Homo sapiens: one gene and its partner. The protein of the gene in region 1 interacts with the protein of each later gene in a pairwise test. Each region holds a gene or a part of one and is shown on either strand. Other genes may lie near its edges.

Region 1 (4,509 bases):
GCCTGCTCCAGGAAGAGCTGGATCATCCATTCATTCATTTATGCATGCATTCATTAAACAGGTATTCACTGACTGTGCCTCAGACCTGGTTTTGGGTACCAAGGAAGTTTTTCAAAACCTCACAGGGCTTTGTAGCTATAAAGATATGTAAGGATCCTTGGGTTATCTGAAGCCCAGAGAAGGGAGATAACTTGTCCAAGAGCACACAGCAAGTTGGGGGCAGCGCTGGGCCAGTGCTCTGAGCTCCTCCAACCCCGCCCCCACCCACCCAAGGCTAGATCTAGATCTACCCACTCCTCTCCTTAACTCTTCATCGGCTGTACTCCCACCCTAAGGAGTCGAAATCCCCACCCTAGGGAGAGACATATCCTGTCTGGATTGTCCAAAAGGGAATGAAAGGTAAAAATGAAAAAAAAAAAAAAAAGTGTCCCCAATTCAAGTGCAGTGCCTCCCTGGTGCGGGCATTCCAGCGTGGCCTGGAGTGAGTGGCAGTCCACCTCCAGAGGCGTCCCCTGGGCGCTCCTAGGGACTCGAATTTCCCACGCGGCTTTTTGCTTTATGTATTCACTGTTTAGACGTTTTCGGTCAAAGCATTTTGGGACTTCCGTAACTCTCAGAGCGCGCCAGGGAGCCGCCCTTAAAGATACCTAGTTACTGATGAGTTCCATCCGGTAAAGCAGAGGGTAGTGGGCGGCTTGGAGACTCAGGATCCGGGTCCCCTCACGCTCCTGGCTGAGTCCCTGGCTTCACAGGGGAAACTACCTCCGCAGGCCAGGACCCATCTAGTTACAGGATACCTCGATGTTACAAAGACGAGGCTTCCAGCGCGGGGGCGTGGAGGCGGCTGCCAGCCCTGCCCGCAGCGTGCTGGCGACCCCCGGGACGCCCCTTCCCTCCCGCGCCTCTGCTCCCTAGCTGGTGGGAGCAGAGCGGCACCGGGATCACTTCCAGGTCCCTTGCACCGGAGGAATGGGCGGCAGCAGGGTCCGGAGTCGGCCCGGCGGGGCCCACGTGGCCAGCACATCGGTCCTCCGCTCGCGATTTCCCTTTTCCGCTCTCGGGCACGAGGTACTGAACGCCAGGTGGAAGCACAGCTGTGCAGCTACAGGCTCTGCCGTTCAGCTGCCGCGGGCCGGGGCCGGGGCCTGCGGCGTCGTGCGCGTGCGCGGACCAGTTCCAGGCGGGCGAGACCGCCGCAGGGCGGGGCGGGGCGAGGCGGCCGCAGGGCGGGGAGGGCGGGGAGAGGCGGCCGCAGGGCGGGGAGGGCGGGGCGCGAAGCCGGGGGCGGGGGCCACGCGTGGGGCAGGCGGTGCTCGGCTCGGCTGACGTCGGCCCGCCGGCGCCCCACCAGCTCCGCGCGGGCCCGGGTTGGCCACCGCCGGGCCCCCGCCCCTCCCCCGGCGGTGTCCCGGCCGGAACCGATCGTGGCTGGTTTGAGCTGGTGCGTCTCCATGGCGACCCGCCGGTGCTATAAGTAGGGAGCGGCGTGCCGTGGGGCTTTGTCAGTCCCTCCTGTAGCCGCCGCCGCCGCCGCCCGCCGCCCCTCTGCCAGCAGCTCCGGCGCCACCTCGGGCCGGCGTCTCCGGCGGGCGGGAGCCAGGCGCTGACGGGCGCGGCGGGGGCGGCCGAGCGCTCCTGCGGCTGCGACTCAGGCTCCGGCGTCTGCGCTTCCCCATGGGGCTGGCCTGCGGCGCCTGGGCGCTCTGAGGTGAGGGACTCCCCGGCCGCGGAGGAAGGGAGGGAGCGAGGGCGGGAGCCGGGGCGGGCTGCGGGCCCCGGGCCCCGGGCACGTGTGCGGCGCGCCTCGCCGGCCTGCGGAGACACGTGGTCGCCGAGCGGGCCACGACCTTGAGGCGCCGCTTCCTCCCGGCCCGGGGTTCTCCCGCGGCTGGATAAGGGTGATCCGGGCGCCTCGTTCTGCCCCCGTCTTCACAGCTCGGGGCTGGAGGGGCCTAGGGGAGACCCACCCGGAGACCCTGCGGCCCCGCGCCGGCCTCTTTCCCAACCCTTCGGCGGCCGCGCGCTGGCCGGGGAGCCGTTGGGGAGGCCCTGGCGGCCGCGCAGCAGGTGCAGGGGCGCAGAGCCCGGGCTCGCCTTGGTACAGACGAGCGGGCCCCGGCCTTGGCGCCTTCAGTTTCCTTCCAGTTTTTATTTTCGCTGTGTCTACAGAGCAGATGACACCAATTTGGAAACCCGCGAGAGTGGGTAGAGCTAAGATAGTCTTGCTGTAGTAGCTGTGATATTAGATGCTCGGCCATGACTTAGAGGTGTTTATTTAAGGACTGTGAATGACTCGGTGATTTCGGAAAAGCTTGGCTTAGATGAACGGACATACACAGGGGAGACAGCCCTAAGGTTTGCAGAAAAGGCTGATTGTGCTGTTTGCGAAGTCGAAATAATTGGTGAAAGTGTAGAAGGCAGAACCTCTCAGGAATGTCTGGGGAGGACAAAGAATGTGTTGGCTGACTTTGTTTAAACATAAAATTGGGCAGACTTTAATTGATTTGTGAAATTTTTTTCAAAGTTTGTTTGAATTAGCCCCTATCTCTTCTAACATTATCCTCTTGTGCTAATTGATTGACCATTTTAAATAACTTAGCTGTTACAGAAAGACCGAAAGGTGTTCTTCAGTAAAATATATTCAAGTAAGTTACTTAAGTAACGCCTTAAAAGATACAGAAAAGCAAAAAAGTATTGGCGTATTAAAAAGAAATCAAAACTTTCCAAGTTTAGGCCTGAACATTGCCTTAAAAATATTTAATAAGGCCTCAAATGACCCAGTCCGAGACTGCATGAGCCTATTTATTATTAAATTGTAAATATTCTTCATATAAACAAAAATATATAACCATGTCTGTAACAAAAATGGTTTTGCTAGCGTTGTTACTCTCTTCCCTTCTCCGAGGGGTGATTTAGGCAACTTCGGAGGTTGACAATGCCAAGCAGTCACAATAGATAGAGCTTTAAAGCAAATTCTATGCATGGGTTTGGATTTATGACAGGCCCGTCACCCTGGGCCTGTCATAGTACCCCATGCCAGAGCAAACTGTGTCCCCGAACCATTGCCTGGCCTCTGTGCCCGTAGGCTGCTGGCACTGAAGTGGGTTGCACAGTGGAAAAGAAGAAAGCTCTACCTGGCAGAAATTTTTAAAGGTTAAAATAAATAATTTTAAGAAAGCTGGTTCACAAGGTGCCACATTTGATGAAAGCAAAATACAGTGGCTTTTATTGTTACTAGAGTGATGTTCTTGCTTGTTTTTCTTTTTTGGTGAAGTTAGCCCCAAATTATTCTCATAGCTAAGCAAATACGAGAGTGACTGTAAGGACAGTTGGCATTCCCGGAATTGCTAAACTTGGTAGGCAACGCTGGTTTAAGAATACTGAGTTCTAGCCGGGCGTGGTGGCTCACGCCTGTAATCCCAACACTTTGGGAGGCTGAGGCAGGCGGATCACCTGAGGTCGGGAGTTGGAGACCAGCCTGACTAACATGGAGAAACGCCATCTCCACTAAAAATATAAAATTAGCCAGGCCCCGGGTGTGGTGGCACATGCCGGTAATCCCAGCTACTCGGGAGACTGAGGCAGGAGAATCGCTTGAACCCAGGAGGCGGAGGTTGAGGTGAGCCGAGATCATGCCATTGCACTCCAGCCTGGGCAACAAGAGTAAAACTCTGTCTCAAAAAAAAAAAAAAAAAATACTGAATTCTGATCAGGTAACAGCAACTGTAATACAATGTGATAAGTTGACTTGAAGATTACAGTTTTTAAGAAGTATATACCCAGCTAATACATGAAAATTAACTCGTAAAATCTCAAATGCTCCAGACATTTCCATGATGCCTGTTGGTCAGTAAAAATCATTCTAAGACTTAGTGGAAGTAGGAAATGTTTGTATGGCTGTGTATAAAGGCTATAATGTAATCCCAGCACTTTGGAAGACCGAGGCGGGTGGATCACCTGGGGTCAGGAGTTTGAGACCCACCTGGACAACGTGGTGAAATCCTGTCTCTACTAAAAACACAAAAATTAGCCGGGCATGGTGGCAGGCGCCTGTAATCCCAGCTGCTGGGGAGGCTGAGGCAGGAGAATCGCTTGAACCCGGGAGGCAGAGGTTGCAGTGAGCCAAGATTGCACCGCTGCACTCCAGCCTGGGTGACAGCGTGAGACTCTGTCTCAAAAAAAATAAAAAAGTCTATAATGCTATTTTAAGTTTCTAAGGAACTGAAACTGCTCTGAAATAAATCAGACCATTATAAGACTTTTTTCCATATCAGTGAGCTAAGTGCAGATAAGCTTCTGAAACTTGCATGCTAGATTTTTTTGGTACAAATATTTGAAATGCTTAGTGTGCTGCCTTGGAAAAACCTGGTATTTTTTGTTGTGTCCTTATACTGCCAAGGTTTATGGAATCATGTACCTTATGCCTAGTAATAATTAGGATGACCAGGCCAGTGAGTGGTTCATATCCGGGGCATGATTAGCTCTGCGTGTGCTCAGCCAGTGCCCCAT
Region 2 (3,500 bases), on another chromosome or scaffold:
AAAGCAGTGCACACTAGGAGACGCAATGGCGTATCTAACCTCAGATATCCCTTCCCTTAATATGACTACCACCCAGAACCACCTAGCCTAGGTCCCCAGCAGTAGAGGATGGATGGCTTTTTTTCTGACTCCTACAAATGCAACATGCTCTGCCTCCCTCAAATCCTTAAGCAGCGACGAACTAATCCTGAAACTGCTTTTCTACAGCCCATGGTGCTTAGTATAAAGCTGTGCATACAGTAAAGAGAGGTTAAATTAAACTCCCTAGTAGACTGAACCTGTGACAGCGATGTGTTTTTTTGTTTTTTTGTTTTGTTTTGTTTTTCCCAGAGTCAACCTCCGCCTCCCAGGTTCAAGCAATTCTCATGCCTCAGCCTCCCGAGTAGCTGGGACTACAGACGTGCACCACCATGCCCAGCTAATTTTTGTATTTTTAGTAGAGATGGGGTTTTGCCTTGTTGGCCAGGCTGGTCTCGAACTCCTCACCTCGTGTGATCCACCCGCCTCAGCCTCCCAAACTGCTGGGATTACAGGCGTGAACCACTGCACCCGGCCACCTGGGTGTTTTCTTAAGATGAGCAAGTAAATTCCAAGGTGAAGGAAACCAGGCAGTACTTACCTCGTTGACTATGTAATCCAACAACTCAAAAATTGCCATGGGAGGTCGGCTGTCCATTCCGTATGCTACAAATTTTATAAAAAGAAAAAATACTTCTCAGAAACAGATTACTTGTTAATATGAGGCAAGGGGTTGGGCATGGATCCCTGGGACCAGAACAGGGTCATGGACAATAAACATTAAACAGCCACAGATAAGGCTTGAACACAGAGGGGACCAGCAAAGGCCAGGGTACAAGTCTGGGCTCTGCCACATCTTAAGTTCGTAACCTTTGGCAAATCAGTTCACTGCTGAGCCAAACAAAGTTCTGAGTTTTGTAAAGCAGAGACATAATAATTATGTCTGTCCTTTCCCCCTTCCTTCTATTGAGAGAGGCACAAATGAGATAGCAACTAAATAACTAAAGGACTTAGTTTTAATTCTCCATGAAGTTGCGTTTCTTCCTTTTGTCTCCTAGAGTCACTGGCGAGCCTCAGAGGCCACAGCCACCAGCCCCTCCAATGACCTGCCATCAGCTACCTCTAGCCCCCTCTGCTTTCCCCTTTATACAAGCTCTCTCTCATGTGGACCTCATGGAGGTACAGGGCAGGTATCCCTGGCCAGACAGGAGCTACATAAAAAACAGTTGGCTAGGTCAGGCTATTCCCTGAGTACCAGGTTTACTTCCCAGTATTCACATTCAGAGAGGCAGGTGGTACTGCACAGTGTTTATCATCTTGGGAGTCAGACTTGGCTACTTGCAAGCCTATGTGGCCTTGACAAGTGCACTGTGCCTCAGTTTCCTCATCTTTAAAATTCAGATTATAGTCGTGATCACAAATGAAATGCTATTAAAATTATATAATGCTAGGCAAATCCGTGGACACAGAAAGTAGATTAGTGGTTGTCAGTGGATCAGGCAGGGGGGAGTGGGGGATGGGGTTTCTTGCTGGGGTAATGAAAATGTTCCAGAATAAGACAGTGGTGATGGCTGCACAACATGGAACAATACACTAAAAACCACTGAACTACATGCTTTAAAATGTGAATTTTGTCTTATGTGAATTCTATATCTCAATAAAAAATAAATCTACCAAAAGTCATGATTAAAAAATTAGAATGCAGTGGCTCATGCCTATAATCCCACCACTTTGGGAGGCCAAGGCAGGAGGATCACTTGAGCCCAGGAGTTCCAGACCAGCCTAGTCAACATAGTGAGACCTCATCTATACAAAAAAATTAAAAAAATTAGTCAGGCATGGTGGCGCATGCCTGTGGTCTCAGCTACTCAGGAGGCTGAGGCAGGAGGATCACTTGAGCCCAAGAGGTCAAGGCTGCAGTAAGCCATGATGGCGCCACTGTACTCCACCCTGGGTGACAGAGCAAGACCCAGTATCAAAAACAAAACAAAACAAAAAAAACCCACAAATTAGAAGCCAGTCATGGTGGATCATGCCTGTAATCTCAGCATTTTGGGAGGCTGAGGCGGGAGGATTGCTTGAGCCCAAAAGTTCAAGACTAACCTGAGCAACATAAGGAGACTATATCTCTACAAAATAAACAACAACCTAGCTGAGCATGGTGGCATGTGACTGTGGTCCCAGCTACTCAGGACGCTGAGGTAGGAAGATCACTTGGGCCTGGGAGGTTGAGGCTGCAGTGAGCTGTGATCATGCCATTGCACTCCAGCCTGGGTGACAGAGTGAGCCCCTTCCCTCCCAACCCCCGCAAATAAATTATAACCTGTAGTCCCAGCTACTCTGGAGGCTGAGGGAGGAAGACTGCTTGAGCCCAGGAGTTGAAGACTGTGACTAGCCACTGCACTGGGCGACATAGCAAGACCCTTAATAATAAAAATAATAAATACAAAAGGTTAGATAATGTATAAAGTCCTAAGTGCAGTACCTAGAACATAGTACGTACTCAACAAATGGTAGGAAGTTGTTGGTAGTAACAACACCCACCTGGAGACCCTTGCTGCTTCCCCTGGCCCTAGCCTGGCATCCAGGGACAGAGAATCAGTCTTGGCAGAATGTACAGAGAATCAGCCCTCCAGAAACCCCTGAAAGTAAGGGACCCTCCCCTCCAACAGTCCAAGATGGGGACACACCAGGCTACTCACAGCTAAGGGGCCTCCCGGGGGTCCTTGGCCTGGGTGGGGTCTCAGCCGCATCTCCTTCCACCTGGCACCCAAACATCAGCTCCAGCTCCTTGGCATCTGGAGGAGGGATGGGATACCTCCCAACCGCCATCTCTACCAGAGACAGTCCCATGCTCCAGATGTCTGACTGCACAGAGTAATGAGTCCCCTGGAGTCTTTCTGGCTGCAGGAGAGACAGACAGTGATAATCACCTAACCTAACTTGGACCCCTGGGTCTGCTAATGCATTTTCTCTTCTGTCCCTTCTCAATAGTTCATATCCTGTTTCAAGAGCTCCACTAACCTCTTGAATTTGGCCTCCTGCCTACCCCCAACACTGTGTTTACCAAATCCTAGCTGGCTTCTGTGGCTTTAACCCCTCATCCCTGCTCTATTTCTCCTATAATCTGGCCTAAATTGACAGACCACATGTAATCAGCTGTGCCCTGGCTGCCACTACAGCCTGTGGTTCCAGCTTTACCCAGCTTGGCCACAGTCTTGCACACGCAGGGCAGCCTGTCCGAAGCCCAGCATGAGAGGCTCATCTTGTCACTGAATCTGAAACATGAAGCTTGTGGAATGCGGGTTGGGAGTGAGGTGGTGCCGTGGATACATAGAACAAAAGATCTGGGGTCAGTGGGCCTGAGACTTAAATCCCAATTCCGGGACTTACAAGCTAAAAGATCCTGAATATCAGCCTCATCTATAAAATGGGGCTGCTGCTGGGCCGGGACGCAGTGGCTCACACCTGTAATCCCAGCA

Evidence for each region.
Region 2: the proteins of ODC1 (region 1) and MAP2K1 interact in a two-hybrid assay, tested with the Homo sapiens proteins (one large-scale study listed by BioGRID and IntAct).

What each region holds. Positions count from the first base shown.
Region 1 is NC_000002.12:10,445,320-10,449,828, reverse strand, and holds the start of ODC1 (ornithine decarboxylase), read left to right. Parts: upstream 1-1,501; 5' UTR 1,502-1,708; intron 1,709-1,816; exon of another isoform or gene 1,817-2,355; intron 2,356-2,979; exon of another isoform or gene 2,980-3,115; intron 3,116-4,509. UniProt on the Homo sapiens protein: Catalyzes the first and rate-limiting step of polyamine biosynthesis that converts ornithine into putrescine, which is the precursor for the polyamines, spermidine and spermine.
Region 2 is NC_000015.10:66,484,412-66,487,911, reverse strand, and holds part of MAP2K1 (dual specificity mitogen-activated protein kinase kinase 1), read right to left. Parts: intron 2,923-3,500; coding exon 2,721-2,922; intron 685-2,720; coding exon 620-684; intron 1-619. UniProt on the Homo sapiens protein: Dual specificity protein kinase which acts as an essential component of the MAP kinase signal transduction pathway.